Regions from separate parts of the Homo sapiens genome. Here region 1 is linked to region 2. The links come from fine-mapping of genetic effects on gene expression. A gene starts in region 2. The other region holds a variant in brackets. All regions are shown on one strand. Distances are from middle to middle.

Region 1 (8,131 bases), 29 kb before region 2:
ACCTGTCAGACCCGACCGTGGGGGTCGGCGCGCCGGGAACCTCCACAGCCTGGCCAGCCCCTGCCTGGTGCTCGGTTCAGACAAGCTGGGGCCCAGCAGAAGCAAAGAGGCGGTCACTGCCCCACCTACCCGACATCGAGTCCCGCCCTCGCAGACCTCCTGCAGCCTCACTCCCCACAACCCACCCCACCCAGCAGGGAGCTGGCTGAGCCAGGCAGGGCTGACTCGTCAGGACTTGGTGGCCATGTCAGGGTGACAGCAGGTTCACCACACAGGGGGCATCCCAAAAAACAGCTGGAGAAACAAGGACTCGGCAGCCAAGGGGCCGCAGAGGGACAAAACCCCACTCTGCCGGGGAAGACAGCTGGGGCCTTTCCAGACATTTTCAGCATAATCAGCAGGAAAGGCAGGAGGGTGACTTCTGAAGAAGAACGCTGCCCTAGCCGCACATGAGATTTGTCGGGAACACAGCTGTGGGGCACGTGGCCTGCACCTCACCCCTCTGCCCAGGCCTCCGCTTCTCCTCCCTGGAAGCAGCTGGCACCAGTCAGCGCCACGGGGACCATGGGAGCAACCACAGGGTGGCGGGTGGCCCCTCGCCCGAGGCCTGGCGCTCGGCGGTCACACCCCCCGAGCCCCCCAGGGCAGCCGGAGTATCCTCGTGCCGCGGTGGTGGCCCCAGCGGAGCACAGGCAGAGGCTGGCGTGGACGTGGCGCAGCTGGCAGGTCCGGGCCTCTGAACTTCACCCCGAATCTGGCCGCGCTCAGCAGCCACACTGTGTGGAGACCGTGCTCCACCACCCAGAGCGGCAGGCGGGAGAGAAGCCTGGCTCGGGAGTGGACGGTGGACTCCAGAGGCCGCAAGGCAGAGGCCACCCCCACCCCACTCCACCGCACAGCACGACCCAGACTCAACCCTCGTCCACACGCCAGCCGTGAGGGAATTTCCGGGGCGTGGAGGCCGGGCTGTGGCGCCACCTGGCAACACTGTCCTTCCCCATCCCGTCACAGAGGCAGCAGGGCCCAGGGCAGAGAACCTGAACCCCTGGGGCGTCCGGGACGGCACACGGCGCATGCGGGAGTGGCCTCCACTCCCACGGAGACACCGTTCCAATGAAGCTTTTAGGGACTTTCGAAGGTCTTATCCAGAAACTAGAGTAACAGGTTGGGGGTCGGGGCAGCCAGGCCAAGACCCCCTGGGGACCAGGAACCCACAGTAGCATCCGAAAATGCCTCAGCCCTCAAGGATGCTCATCGGCGGAGCCAAAGGCAGGCCTTGGGCCAGCCGCACCCAGAGCCATTCACTCCTCTCCTTCCCATTCACAGGACGGTGGCGTCCCTGAGCGGACATCCACCCTGGCCTGCAGGGTGGGCCAGCCCTCCCGGTCGCTGTCATCCACTTGACGTTCTCAGGCCATGGCTGAAGAGGGCAAGACCTCAAAGCCTGACTGAAGTCGTGCTGAGCAGCAGAGCCGAGACACTGCAGGCAGTGGCAGAGGACCACGCACTGAGCGGCCTTGGACAGGTGGCTCCAAGGCTGAAAGTGAGATCTGTGGCGGGCAGGGCCTCTTCCCTCCTCCCTCCAGGGCTGGGGCGCTCCTCCTCCCTCACTCCAAGGCTGGGGCACGCTCCTCCCTCCTCCCTCCAGGGCTGGGGCGCTCCTCCTCCCTCAGTCCAAGGCTGGGGCATGCTCCTCCCTCCTCCCTCACTCCAAGGCTGGGGCATGCTCCTCCCTCCTCCCTCCAGGGCTGGGGCGCTCCTCCTCCCTCTCTCCAGGGCTGGGGCACGCTCCTCCTCCACTCTCCCTCCTCCCTCCAGGGCTGGGGCACTCCTCTTCCCTCCTCCCTCACTCTAGGGCTGGGGTGCTCCTCTTCCCTCCTCCCTCCAGGGCTGGGGCACTCCTCCTCCCTCCTCTGAGGGCTTGGGGATGCTCCTCCTCCCTCTTTCCAGGGCTGGCACACTCCTCCTCCCTCCAGGGCTGGGGTGCACTCCTCCTCCTGGCGTCCATCCTCCTTCATGGCTGGCAGCTGCGTGGCTCCAGTGTCTGCCTCTGCTCTGGGGGCCACCTCTTCCGAGTGTCTGTCCAAGTTTCTTCTTATAGGGAGACTGGTCACTGGCTCAGGGTCCCACCCTACCGGCCTCATTTTAACCTGGTTATGAGGACCCTGCAGTAGCACCCTGCGATCTGTAGCAGGGGGATACATTCCAAGACCCCCCCATGGACGCCTGATGCTGCGGATAGCACGGAACCCCTATATACCAAGCTTTTTCCTATACGAACGTCCTCATTTGCACGTCAGGCCCAGTAAGAGATTAACAAGATTAACTGGTAACATAGATTTCAGCACCGCACAGTAATAAAAGTTACCTGCGCAAATGCTGTACACTGCTGTCCTGAACCCAGACCTCGCACCAGCAAATGAGGCAGTGGACAGCGAACCCTGGGATAAGAGGACCTGCTGTGTTTCCCTGCAACGCCACGTACCTAGGTGCGACGCCTGGGGTTCAGGTGCATCTTCCCCCGCCACACCCAGCCCCCCCAACCGAGATAGAGTCTTGCTCTGTCACCCAGGCTGGAGTGCAATGGCGCGATCTCAGCTCACTGCAACCTCCGCCTCCCAGGTTCAAGCTATTCTCCTGCCTCAGCCTCCTGAGCAGCTGGGACTACAGGTGCCCTCCACCACCCCCAGCTAATTTTGCATTTTTAGTAGAGACAGGTTTTCTCTATGTTGGTCAGGCTGGTCATGAACTCCCCACCTCAGGTGATCTGCTTGCCTCATCTCCCAAAGTGCTGGGATTACAGGTGCAAGCCACCATGCCCAGCCTCAAATGCAACTTTCAGGGGACACAATTCAACCCAGGACATGGGGGCCCACCTGCAGATGCCCCTGTTGGTCCTGCCCGTCCTCCCCAGGCCCCTCAGGACTCTGTATCAACAGATCTGGCCCCTGCTGTGCACAGCCCTCCCTCCCTGAGTCCTCCCTCAGAAAGGAGACCCCCCCTCTGCCTCCACTCCCCCTGCAGCTGTTTTCTGGGGCCTCCTCACCACTCACTCTGCCCACCGCTGCCCCGGGCCCTTCCCTCCAGCCCTGCGCCTGTGCCCTGAACTGCCTCTTGTCATAGGCACCAGCTTCCCTCCCAGGCCCACCCTCCTCCCTGAGGGCTGGCAGCCTCTCCTGTGGCCTGGACCCGCCCAACACAGTGGCTCTGCAGCCCCGAGCCCAGATGTCCAGCAGGGGCCAAAGCCCTTCCTCCTCCCTGGCAAAGGATCCCTTGCTTGTTCCCATGGCCCCACTGCAGGCCCTTCCCAGACACCACGTGTGCAGGGGCTGCTGGAAGCTGGCACTGCAGGATCCCTTCCTCATGGGCTGCTCGCTCAACCCACACCCCCTGAGGCCCATGCCCAGCCTGCCTTCATGCATTGCAATAGTAACCTTCCTACCAAGAAAAGCCTCATTGCATCCTGAATCCTGACCTGCAAGAAAGGAGGAAGCTTGTGCCCTTGCGCGTGCCGGTCACCGCTTCCCAATGGGTCCTTTGCCGGGCTCCTAACCTGCTGTGCCACTGCAGGCTCAGCCTGGCTGTGCCTTCCATTCAGTAAGATCAGCCACACCAGTCCCCAGAAAGCTGCTCGGCCTCCAAGCCCTGCATGGAATGCCCCCCACTACATCCTTGCAGGTGTCAGCCTGAACCATGTCAGGGCCCTGGACAGACTCACTGAGGACAGGCACCGACCCCCCAACCCGCAGGCCTGCCCACAGCCCCCTCATGCTCCCATACGGGGGCTTGATGACGGGCAGGGCCAAGCGGTTTGCCCATAGTCAGGTCAGCCAGGCTCGGGAACCTGGACCTGCCCTCTGCACCCAAGTCCCAGGATCAGGATATGGCAGCCCCTTCAGAGCTCACCGCCCCTCACACCTGGCAGAGATCCAGAAACTCCTCATGAAAATCAAAGACGCAAAGAAGTTGGGGGACAGGAACGGAGGCGCCTTTTCTCCCCTTGGAGTGGGGTGATCCCACCAGGCTCCGTGCTAAGTCGGCAGAAGCTTCACCCACCAGCTGCAGAGTGCGCAGCATGTGGAGGGGCTAAGCTGCCTTCAATGCTCACCCGACAAACTACGGCTCGCACTCAACTCAGAGGGCGTCAGCCACCACCTACCTCAGCCAAGTCACCTGTGCTGAAGCCCGGGAAGCTGCCTGGAGAGGGGACGTTCAGGGAGCGTGTGGGTGCCCCCGAGAGACTCCGGCCCCGCTTCAAAGCCAAGTGCCCCTCATCCAAAGAGAGCACCGGAGAGGGTCCTGGAGGCTCCACCACCCCTAGGGTGCTATCTAGGGCTCACTCCCAGAAATCAAGGGGGGAGACGGCTGCTGCACCGTCCTGGCCCACTTTCTCACCCGCAGCTTCTCCCCCACCTCACCTCACTGTTTCAAGGTTAGACCCAGATCTTCTGAAACATTCTCAAAGAAAGAGCTGACCCTTGTGCAGAGGCAAAATCTAGGTGAGGCTGGTCACCTAAGCGAGTACAGCTGGGTCAGGCCAGGCTGCCTCAGCCCCGGGCGTTAGGAAACCACCGGCCCCGCTGAGTCACCGCGACACAGCCCGGCTCTGCCGTGACACAGCACATTCAAGGCGCCGCGGTCCCCCGGGGTCAGGGACACGCGAGGACAAGCTACAGACTGCTCGGAACTCAGGACAGGGCGGGGGAGCCGCCGACGCCAGGGAAATTCCCGTACCACGCGGGCTGAGTGCAGGCGGGCCAGGCCAGGACGCAGGGGTCGGCCCTCCCCCGCCCCGTTCCCCTGCCCTCTCCTGCCCCGCTCCGCTCCGCTCTCCTGCCCCGCTCCCCTGCCCTCCCTCGGGGCACCGACCCCGCCTAGCTAGGGGA[C/A]GCAGGCGGCCCGAGCCCGCGCTGGGAAGCGGCGAGCGCCCGGCAGAGGCAGGTTCCGAGAAGGCGACGCCTTCGCCTCGCTCCGGGCCTCTGAGAAGCCCGGGCCCACCCCGCGGCTGTCACACCCGGCTCCGTGACGCGGGGGACGCACCTGGCGGGGGGCGCACCTAAGGGAGGGCCCGCTCCTGACCGCCGAGTAACGAGACCCGCACCTTGGCGGCGCACGGCTGCCACGCGCTGGGGCCGCCGCCAATGCTGACTCACGGTCCGCGGCCGCCCCGCGCCGCCGCCGGGGATTCAAACCCGGCCCGCGCCCCGCCCCCTCCGCGCTGGCCCCGCCCCGCAACGTGACTCGGCCCCGCCCCCGTCGCACTGGCCACGCCCCCCGCGCTGCCCTCCCCCAACCTTCCCCCCGACTCGGGCGCACCCGGTCCCCGCGGCTCCTGGCTACGAGCTGGGCGGGCAAGTGGGCGCGGGCAGCGGGGGCCAGAGGTCTTCAGGCAGAAAGCCCCAGAGCTGCCCCGCTGCCCGGCTCCTCCTGCCCTGCCCACCTGCACCTGCAGCTGCTCCGGGCGGACTCAGGTGAAACACGGTCGACCCAACAGGGGCGCTCGCGGGGCGGGGCGGCGTGAGCTGGGGCCGCTGCCTGCCCTGCAGGACCCTCCTCCCTCCCAAGTCCGCGTGCCTGCCCAGCCCCATCTAAACGCGGGGTACGGAGCTCGCAGGTCTCTCTTAATCTGAAACCTGTTCCTATGAAGTGTAAGATGAAGGAAAATGGAACCTATCAGATGGGTCTGAAATGATCCCACTAAAAATCCCTTAAATACAGAATCCGCTCATTTCTTCTATTCCGTGCTCCAGTCACAGTACACCTACAACCTGAAGGAAACTGTACTATTAACACAAGGAAAAAACGACCCAGTCTACACACCAGCTTTGTCCAAAACCCTCTACAACAGCTAATAAAATACACACGCAGCCAGGCGGGCCTACACCTGGGGCCAGACAGTCCCGGGAGCCATGGGCAGGGAGTCCCTGAGCCTGGGGCGCAGGAGTGCCCTGGGGTCAGCGGGCAGGACACTGCCTCCAGTGCCTGTGGCTAGTGCAGGGATGTAACTTTACAGCGATGTCTCAGACATGGACAGAGGAAAAAAGTGAGGCTGGCACTGGGTGGCAAAGCTCACAATTTCAGCCGCAGCAGCAGCAACAATACATTGCCTCTAACTAAGGCAGTGTCGATCCTGAAAAAAAAAAAAAATCCATCTCTTCACCTCTGAGTAGCTGGTTCAGGATTTTTTTTTTTTTTTTTTTGAGAACAAGTCTCGCTCTGTCACCCAGGCTGGAGTGCAGTGGCACGATCTCAGCTCACTACAACCTCCGCCTTTGCGGTCCAAGCAATTCTCGTGCCTCAACCACCTGAGTAGCTGGGATTACAGGAGCAAGCCACCACACCCAGCTAATTTTTGTATTTTTGGTAGAGATGGGGTTTCACCATGTTGGTCAGGCTAGTCTTGAACTCCTGACCTCAGGTGATCCACCCGCCCTGGCCTCCCAAAGTGCTGGGATTACAGGCGTGAGCCACTGCTCACGGCTCAGGAAATATTTAAGTAAATGAAAGAGTGTGCTTCAAGATCGCGAGTGACATACTAAAACAGGTCAAAAACGTACCTCAGATACGAAAGAATGGTTGGAAAAATGACTACAAATGTGCTAACTCCAGTCCATCTGAAGGTCAGCTACGCGGATGCAGCCACGCCTCTGTCAAGCACACAGGCACCTGGGTCGACTTTCCACCCGAGTGAGCACAGTCCAAGATGGTCTCTCTTGTTTGGGATTTAATTTTCCTAAATATTTTTCTGCTATGCTCAAATTCTAGCATTACTACTTTTAGGTTGGGGAAGAGAAACTTTATTTAAAAAGAATGTGTGCTTATTTGTTTAAAAGAAAAAAATAAGTGACCGGGTGTGGTGGCTCACGCCTGTAATCCCAGCATCTTGGGAGGCTGAGGTGGGCGGATCACCTGAGGTCAGGAGTTTGAGACCAGCCTGGCCAACATGGCAAAACCCCGTCTCTATTAAAAATACAAAAATTAGCCGGGCATGATGGCACACACCTGTAATCCCAGCTACTCCGGAGGCTGAGGAGGGAGAATCGCTTGAACCCGGAAGGCAGAGGTGGCAGTGAGGCAAGATTGTGCCATTGCACTCCAGCCTGCACAACAGAGCAAGAAAAAAAAAGAACCTGCTCAGAGGCCAGACCCTCATGGAGCTTTAGCCACTGTGTAGACTTCATCCCTGACCTCTGAGTTTCTGAAGGGGATGTGTGAATTTGAGGGTGTGATTTAGTAAGATCCAGGGCCCTGGATTATGCAACCCATGTATGATAGTGATCTCAAATTAAAACTAGCATGTTCTCACCGGGCCCGGTGGTGCCTGCCTGTGGTCTCAGCTCTACTTGAGAGGCTGATGCAGAAGCATCTCTGGAGCACAGGAGTTGGAGGCTGCAGCGAGCTGACTGTACCACTGCACTCCTGCCTGGGTGACAGGGCAAGACCCTGTCTTAAAAAATAAAACCCCAAAATGAACAAAAACAAACTCAGGGAAGGCCGTCACCTGTGGTGATCTCCAAGTGCTCTGTCCCTGGGCTGGGATGGAATGGGATGGGGGTGGGCACCCCAGCATATTCAACTCATGAGACCTCTCTGTTCAAGAGGAACAACATGTACGCCCTAGTTTCAAACTGAAAACACATGTGGGCTTGTTTCTGCCTGAGAGAAAGCTTAACACAGCACACAGCACTCCCACCCATGGAGTATTCACAGTTTTAAAAACCTACCCTTTACGGTGAAGCCCTAACAGGAGACATCCCACACCACATGCTTCCTCCTCCATAGAGGCTCCGAGAGAAGATGACTTCCAAAACAGGCCGGAGGGCGGAAGTTTGAGTCCTGTCCTGAAACCAGGTGAGCCCTCCATGGCAAGGCAGAAATGAGGAGCCCTTCCCTGGGCAGGGCAGCCCCATACTCCCAGCCAGTGAGGACGAAACAAACGCAAACACTGCTTGCGCCTGTGCCCCTGCCCCCGCCCCGACCAAGCCCCACCACTGGGCGCTGGGTCCATCCAGGATTCCCACTCTCCCCATGGCCTCCTGAGGGAGGGACTGGCCCTGGATTCTGGAGGGTTCTCCGGCAGGTGCACAACAGAGCCCACATAGGAACACCAGGGCTGCGAGGGGGAGATGCACAC
Region 2 (8,131 bases):
CGCAGCACCTGTCCCCAAATGTGGAACCGCCCAGGTACACAGACCACCGCAAACCCCCAGTCAACCAGTCAAACACAGTAAGAAACACAGACCATCGCAAACCCCCAGTCAGCCAAACACAGCAGGAAACACAATGCTGAATTTCCACAAAGCTCATCCTTCCTAATGTTCCAAATAAACCTTTAAACCTGTGTGGGAATGAGAGTTCATGCCCTGCACGCAGGCTGCGTCACCTTCCTTACCCGTCGCAGTCACAAAGTGGGGGCCCCTCCTGCCCAGCGTCCTGCTGCTTTCAGGGACCCCAGGAGGGAGGTAGGGGAGGGAACAAGCACAGGGCCCTGGACGCGGCTTGGGGGACACGAGGGGGATGGGCAGAAGAGGCGGCAGATGGCGTGGTGGGGAACACAGGTGAGGTAGCATCACCATCCCATGGGCCACCTGCAGGCCCAGAGCCATGCTCCTGGGGAGTCACAGGCAGCTCCTGAAGCACGATGGGGTGCAGTGGAGAGGGGAAGCAGCTGCCAAGGCTCAAGTCATAGGCAGGCAGCAGCGACGGAGACAAGGAGACGACACAAACCGCTCTGGCATTCCTGGGCGCCTCCAGGTAGGTCACTCCAGAAGGAGGCAAAGGGACGCACAGAGGACCCTGAGTCATCAATGGTGTCGAGCCCTGGCTGGTCACAGAATCACCCTGAGTGGCCCAAGGGCCAAGGCAGAGGATGACATGGGCCGTCACTGCAGGCCCCCAAATGTAAGGACTGAAACCTTCACCTCCAGCTCCAACTGGGGAGCTCCGTGAGGGCCCCGCCCACCTCACTGTGCACAGGGCTGCAGCCTGGGCACTAGGAGCTCCAGCCAGGGATGGCTGGGGACCAAGAGCGATTCAGCAACACCAGGTCTAGCCCCATCCTCTAAGGTCAGGAAACAGAGACACAGAGTTCAGAGAGGCCGACCCAGGCTCCGCTGGGCACCTGTGATGTGCCAGACACTGAAAGCTGAGGGTCGACAGAGGCAGAAGAAGGGGTGCCTGGCTGGCTCTCAGGGTCCCCAGGAGCCAGCCAAGCAAAAGTCAAATTACAACGCTACCTTGGTACCCAGCGATCCTGCTCCTAAGTACACATCCAAAAAACCTGGAGGCAGGGTCTTCAGGAGACACCTGCACACCCATGTTCACAGCAGCGTCATTCGCAAGAGCCAAGAGGCAGAAACCACCCAAGTGGGCGCCAATGGAGTCAATAAGGAAAGCGCGGGCTTCCATCCACACAACATGGTTAATGCGGGCTTCCATCCACGTGACGGGGTACACGCAGGCTTCCGTCCACAAGACAGGGTAAACGTGGGCTTCTATCCACACAATGGGGTAAACGCGGGCTTCCAGCCACACAGTGGGGTATTTTTCAGACTTAGAAGGAAGGACTGGCACACTGGCTGACATCTGTAATCCCAGCACTTTGGGGGGCAGAGACAGGAGGATTGCTTGAGGCTAGGGGTTCAAGACTAGCCTGGGCAACATGGTGAGTCCCCATCTCTACAACAAATTTAAAAATTAGCCCGGCGTGGTGGTGGACACCTGTGGTCCCAGCTACTTGGGAGGCTGAGGAGGGAGGATCGCTTAAAGCCCAAAAGGCCAAGGCTGCAGTGAGTCGTGATTGTGCCACCACACTTCAGCATGGGCAACAGAGCAAGACCCTGTCTCAAAAAAAAAAAAAAAAAAAAAAAAAAAAAGGAGGCGAGGAAGGAAGGGAGGGAGGGAGAGGAAAGAAAGACAGGGAGGGAGGGAGGGAGAAAGGAAGGAAGGCAGGCAGCCAGCCAGGCAGCTGGGTACAGTGGCTCACGCCTGTGATCCCAGAACTTTGGAAGGCCAAGGCGGGTGGATCACGAGCTCAAGAGTTCAAGACCAGCCTGGCTGGTCTACTAAAAATACAAAATTTAGCCGGGCATGATAGCAGGCGCTTATAATCCCAGCTACTCGGGAGGCTGAGGCAGGGAATTACTTGAACCCGGGAGGCGGGGGTTGCAGTGAACCGAGATCGCGCCACTGTACTCCAGGCTGGGTGACAAGGGCAAAACTCCATCTCAAAAAAAAAAAAGAAACTGGAAAAAGTTTTAAGAAAATGCCTTACTCTTACGGACACCTAGGAGGTGAGAGGGAATACCTAAGAGAAAGCACAGAGCCATTGCTCACGGATGCCCAAGGAGGGGACGCACGAGCCCCCGGGGGTCGGGTGACAAACACGGTTCTCAAACTCATCCGAGACAATCAGTGAGCAGAGCCACGTGATTACACCCAGCACATGGGCACCGCTCTGCCTCACGCTCCAATGCCCTGGACCCACCGAGACCAGAGGATAGGAGGCAGCCAGATCCTGGAGTGCAAGAAGCTGCCCTTCCCTCAGGAAGCTCTCACCTGAACCCAAGGAGGGTCCACCAGACCCCCTTAACACATTCTCGAGACTGCGAGCCACATGCATCAAAATCACCTAGGAGGCCCGTGGCCCATGTGGTCCCCCCAGCTGGTGTGGACGAGGCCCGTGGATCTGCACTGCCGGCTGGTTCCCAGGGAACGTGCGAGAACCACCGGGCTTAGGAGACAGGCAGTGTACACGACTCCCTTCCAGCTTAAGGACGCAGGCATAGGTGGGGGGCCCAGAGCACAGCACTGAAACAGCTGGGGGTGATGGGAGGAACAGGCGTACTCCCATGCCGGGCTATATTGCTAATTTTTTTTTTTTTTGAGACAGAGTCTCACTGTTGCCCAGGCCGGAGTGCAGTGGCACAATCTCAGCTCACTGCAACCTCTGCCTCCTGCGTTTAAGCGATTCTCCTGCCTCAGCCTCCCGAGTAACTGGGATTACAGGCACCTGCCACCATGCCTGGCTAATTTTTGTATATTTAGTAGAGACAGGGTTTCACCATGTTGACCAGGCTGGTCTTGAACTCCTGACATCAGGTGATCCGCCTGCCTTGGCATCCCAAAGTGCTGGGATTACAGGCGTGAGCCACCGCGCCCGGCCTAATTTTTTTGTAGAGACAGAATCTTGCTGTTTCCCAGGCTGGTCCCAAACTCCTGGGCTCAAGCGATCCACTTGCCTAGGCCTCCTGAAGTATTTGGACTGCAGGTATGAGCCACTGCACCCGGATGCCTCTGAGTTTTAAAGACTGCTCGCACGTCCCAGGCCGGCCGTGGGCTTTCCTCTTGCTCCCAAAGCCCAAGCTCATCATGAGATCAGTTTAAACAGCAAATTCTACACACCCTGAAGTGAGTGGAACTTTCACCTACGCCTTAGGTCCTAAGGCATTCAACATTTTAAAATTAAATATTGCAAGAGGATCTTTTAATAGAAAGATCAGACTCCTGGCCGGGCACAGTGGCTCACGCCTGTCATTCCAGAACTTTGGGAGGCTGAGGCAGGTGGACCACCTGAGGTCAGGAGTTAAGAGATCAGCCTGGCCAACATGGTGAAACCCCATCTCTACTAAAAATACACACATACACAAAAATTAGTTGGGCATGGTGGCGCACGCCTGTAATCCCAGCTACTCGGGAGGTTGAGGCAGGAGAATCACTTGAACCCGGGAGGTGGATGCTGCAGTGAGCCGAGATCGTGTCACTGCACTCCAGCCTGGGTGACAGAGGGAGACTCGATCTCAAAAAAAAGAAAGAAAGAAAAAAAAAAGATCAGACTCCAGACCCGCCAGATACAAGCAGCAACAGTTAATCTTAGAAATGGATACTTGGAAAAGTTTCTCCTCCCACCAGTTACTCACAGAATGCACAGTGGAGACCCAGCTAGGCACACCCCGGACCCATCCAGACAGGAGTTCTGCACCTGCCGGACGACAGAGGCCTGGGGAGGCGCACAGGGCAAGCGGGAAGTGTCAGGTCTGTCAGGTGACACCGCCAAACAGAGCTCTGGAAAGAAGACAGAGGCCGGGCGCAGTGGCTCATTCCTGTAATCCCAGCACTTTGGGAGGAGAGGTGGGTGGATTACTTGAGCCCAGGAGTTCGAAACCAGCAAGACCCCACCCCTACAAAAAATACAAAAATTCAGCTGGGCGTGGTGGTGTGCGCCTATGGTCCCAGCTACTTTGGAGGCTGAGGTGGGAGGATCACTTGAGCTCAGGAGGTTGAGGTTGCACTGAGCCAAGATCACACCACTGCACTCCAGCCTGGGCGACAGAGTGAGGCCCTGTCAAAAAAAAAAAAAAAAGGACAAACCTGTGTCTGTGTGTCAATCTGGAAAAGTGGCACCACAGGAATGGGGCAAGCCTGTTTTTTCTGAGAACGAGACCCAGGGTGGCTGCAGGGCCACAGTGCAGGAGCGCTCTTCTGGACAGGGGTGGGCTGGCAGATGGCCACTCGTTCTGTGGCTACACAGCTGCAGGCCACGTGTATTTTTTTTTCCCAATGAAAATGGGCCTAGAGGCTGGGCATGGTGCCTCAGGCCTGTAATCTCAGGACTCTGGGAAGCCTAGGCATATGGATCGCTTGGGTACTCCGGAGGCTGAGGCACGAGGATCAGCTGAGTCCAGGAGGCAGAGGTTGCAGTGAGCCAAGATCGAGCCACGGCACTCCAGCCTGGGAGACAGAGCCAGACCCTGGCTCAAAAGAAAAACAAAAAAAAGATGGACCCTGGAGAGGCCCGGGGTCCCGCGGGGCGCCTTTTCTATTTCTTTACCGCAATCTGTTTAAAGAGAAAAGCAAGCGCCTGCCCCTCAGCTACACCCCCGGGGCCTCAAGGCCACGCCCACATGGGAGCTGCCCCCCCCCCCAACGACCAGGACGGTTCCCACGGGGGCGGGGCTTCACACGTGACCCGGGACAGCCAATCGCGGGCGCGCAGCGGAGGGGCGTGTCGCGCGGAACAAAAGGCCTTTCCCGAGCGGGGCGGGGCGGGGCCGAGATCACGCTGATGCCCACAGGACCGGCACGGCGTGGGGTGCAACAAGGGGCAGCCACCCACCTAGGAAAGGGTGCACAGTGGGGGCACCCACGGGGGCAGGCACCGGAGGGGGTGCCCACAGAGGATAGAGGACGCCGAGAAGTGACCTGGGGAGCCATAGGATGAGGAAGAGAGAAGAGATGACAGCAGGGGCTGTAGGAGGTCACCCTCCACGGAGGGAGGGGTGACGGCAGAGGCGTCCGCAGGAGCTGGTACCGGTGGGGCTGCCCCCAGGGGGGGCTGACAGAGGCAGCAACTGAGCAGGCAGGGGTGGAGCGAGGTGCCAGCCTGCCGTGGAAAGGAGACGCCAGCAGCGGGGGGCCCTCCTGGGGTCCCAGTCCTGCTCTGCCCCACAGCTCAGCCCCAGCACCTCCAGCCACAACCAAGAGCAACGCCTGATACGGGCTAAGGGTCTCTGCTCTCTGATACACATTCATGTGTAAAATAACAGGTTGGTAGTATCAACACCCAAAATAGAAATTTCTTTTTTTTTTTTTTTGAGTCTTGCTCTGTCGCCAAGGCTGGAGTGCAGTGGCGCGATCTCGGCTCACTGCAACCTCCGCCTCCCACGTTCACGCCATTCTCCTGCCTCAGCCTCCCAAGTAGCTGGGACTACAGGTGCCCGCCACCATGCCCAGCTAATTTTTCTGTATTTTTAGTAGAGACGGGGTTTCACCATGTAGGATGGTCTCGATCTCCCGACCTCGTGATCTGCCCGCCTCGGCCTCCCAAAGTGCTGGGATTACAGGCGTGAGCCACCGCGCCCAGCCAAAATAGAAATTTTAAAAACCAATGAACTAAAGAAAAGGAAGGCCCTGTCCTTATTCTGAACGTTCCTTTATTTACAAATTCCGAGGCAACCCTTAATGAGAACCAGAACGGGTACTTCAATAGGACAAACTGGCTATTCCCTTTGTTCAGCGATGAGAAAGTCCCACTCCCGTGGAATGAAGGATAATTATGGAGGAGAGATCTCAGGGGAGGCAGCCTGTCAGACACTTCCTAAAGGGCCGGTCGAAGCAAGTCATTCACACGCTACAAACAAAATCTTAAATAAAATAAGGAAATTTCCTTACTATGTGTGCATATACCCAGGTATCCAAAACAAAACACCAAACAGGCATCTTAGCCCCACTTACCACCCTCAATTATAAACTGTAAGCCATTCAGACAGCAGGCTAATATTTTTGTAATGATGTTATGGAACTGCTACTTGAGCACAGCTTGAAGTGACCACCTAGAGGCAGGCGCTTACTACAGCACTGTCCATCCCTGTAAGAACTGGATACCACCCTGTGCCTAGCAGTGAGGCTGAGTCCACACCAAGACACCCAGACTCCGCAACAAAAACTTATGAGGCCGGGCGCGGTGGCTCATGTCTGTAATCCCAGCACTTTTGGAGGCCAAGGCTAGCGGATCACCTGAGGTCAGGAGTTCAAGACCAGCCTGGCCAACATGGTGAAACCCATCTCTACTAAAAACACAAAAATTAGCCAGGCATGGTGGCACACGCCTGTAATCCCAGCTACTCAGGAGGCTGAGGTACAATAATTGCTTGAACCCAGGAGGCAGAGGATACAGGAGCCCAGATCGCACCACTTCACTCCAGTCTGGTAGATAAAGCGAGAGCGAGACTCCATCTCCAAAAAAAGAAACAGTTATGAAAAGATGCTTTCTCGCCGGGTGCAGGGCTGCACACCTGTAATCCCAGCACTTTGGGAGGCTAAGGTGGGAGGACTGCTTAAGTCCGGGAGGTCGAGGCTGCAGTGGGCTGTAATGGCACCACTGCACTCCAGCCTGGGTGACAAAGCAAGACCCTGTCTCAGAAAAAAAAAAAAAAGAGAGAAAAAGATGCTTTATCTTTATGCATTAAAAGCATCACCTGGCCAGGCACGGTGGCCCATGCCTGTAATCCCAGCACTTTGGGAGGCCGAGGCGGGTGGATCACCTGAGGTCAGGAGTTCGAGACCAGCCTGACCAACATGGAGAAACCCCATCTCTACTAAAAATACAAAATTAACCGGGCGTGGTGGCACATGCCTGTAATCCCAGCTACTTGGGAGGCTGAGGCAGGAGAATCGCTTGAACCCGGGAGGTAGAGGTTGCGGTGAGCCGAGATCACGCCACTGCACTCCAGCCTGGGTGACATAGAGTGCTGCCAATCAGTGCCCTGTATTCAACACTGGAGTGGGGTCAGACAGGCTGGGTGCTCGTCTTCACACTTCCAGGACCCCCACACCAGAGTTAAGCAGCAGTGGCCCTACTTGCAACTCAGGATCCCAGGTCTGGGCAGATAAGGGGCTTGACCAAGGGAAATCAGGGGCTGAGCCCAGACATCAACTAGACAAATACCTGCCTTTGAAAGCCCCATTTGCGGAAAACAGTGGCTTAAAAACCAATTCAATTATGCACTTTCAGAACCGCCTTGAAGTACATCACCATCCTAACCAAAATGGGCTGACTACATTATTTCAAGTTTAGGCATCAACCTGCCTTAACAACACTATGGCCGGGTGTGGTGGTTTGCACCTATAATCCCTGCACGTTGGAGAGGCCAAGGTGGGAAGATCGCTTGAGGCCGGGTAACACAGCGAGACTCCATCTCTACAAAAAAATTAAAAATGAGCCGAGGTGTGTGGTGGCTCACACCTGTAATCCTAGCACTCTGGGAGGCTGCGGTGGGAGGATCTCTTGGGTCCAGGAGTTTGAGACTGAGACCAGCCTGGACAATGTAGCAAAACCCCTTCTCTACTAAAAATACAAAAACAATTAGCCAGGCGTGGTGTAGAGAGTCTATAGCTCCAGAGGCTGAAGTGGGAGAATCACTTGAGCCCAGGAGGTAGAGGCTGCAATGAGCTGAGATCGTACCACTGCACTCCAGCCTGGGCAACCAGAGTGAGACTCGGTCTCAAAAACAAAATAATAAATAAAATAAAATAAATTAGCCAGGAGTGATAGAGCACTCCTGTGGTCCCAGCTGCTCAGGAGGCTGAGGCAGGAAGATGGTTTGAGCCCTGGAGGTTCAAGTTGCAGTGAGCCGTGTTCATGCCCCTGCACTCCAGCCCAGGGCACAGAGCAAGACCCTGTCTCAAAAAACAAAAACAGCCGGGCGCGGTGGCTCATGCCTGTAATCCCAGCACTTTGGGACGCCGAGGCGGGCAGATCACGAGGTCAGAAGTTCAAGACCA

Direction of the effects. Positions count from the first base shown, and alleles are read on the strand shown. Sizes are in standard deviations (SD) of each study's normalised expression.
For the expression in prefrontal cortex of the gene that starts at base 4,896 in region 2, allele C in region 1 goes with a lower level than allele A (large effect, 0.84 SD a copy in ROSMAP).

Evidence for each region. PIP is the estimated chance that this variant, and not a neighbour inherited with it, causes the effect.
Region 1: its variant is fine-mapped to the expression of UNKL-AS1 in prefrontal cortex (ROSMAP, PIP 0.95).

The regions. Positions count from the first base shown.
Region 1 is chr16:1,374,496-1,382,626 of GRCh38, forward strand. All of the region lies in intron 10 of UNKL (unk like zinc finger), which reads right to left. Among named protein-coding and RNA genes, the nearest start is that of GNPTG, 27 kb to the left of the region's middle. RefSeq lists an enhancer at 677-1,176 and silencers at 4,798-4,867, 4,938-4,987, 5,028-5,107, 5,138-5,277. The variant C/A (reference allele first, on the strand shown) is at 4,887.
Region 2 is chr16:1,403,499-1,411,629 of GRCh38, forward strand. It overlaps UNKL-AS1 (UNKL antisense RNA 1), which reads left to right and starts at 4,896. Exons shown (of 2, transcript NR_188570.1): 1 at 4,896-5,394. All of the region lies in intron 2 of UNKL (unk like zinc finger), which reads right to left. RefSeq lists silencers at 4,674-4,851, 4,730-4,779, 4,830-4,899, 5,170-5,319.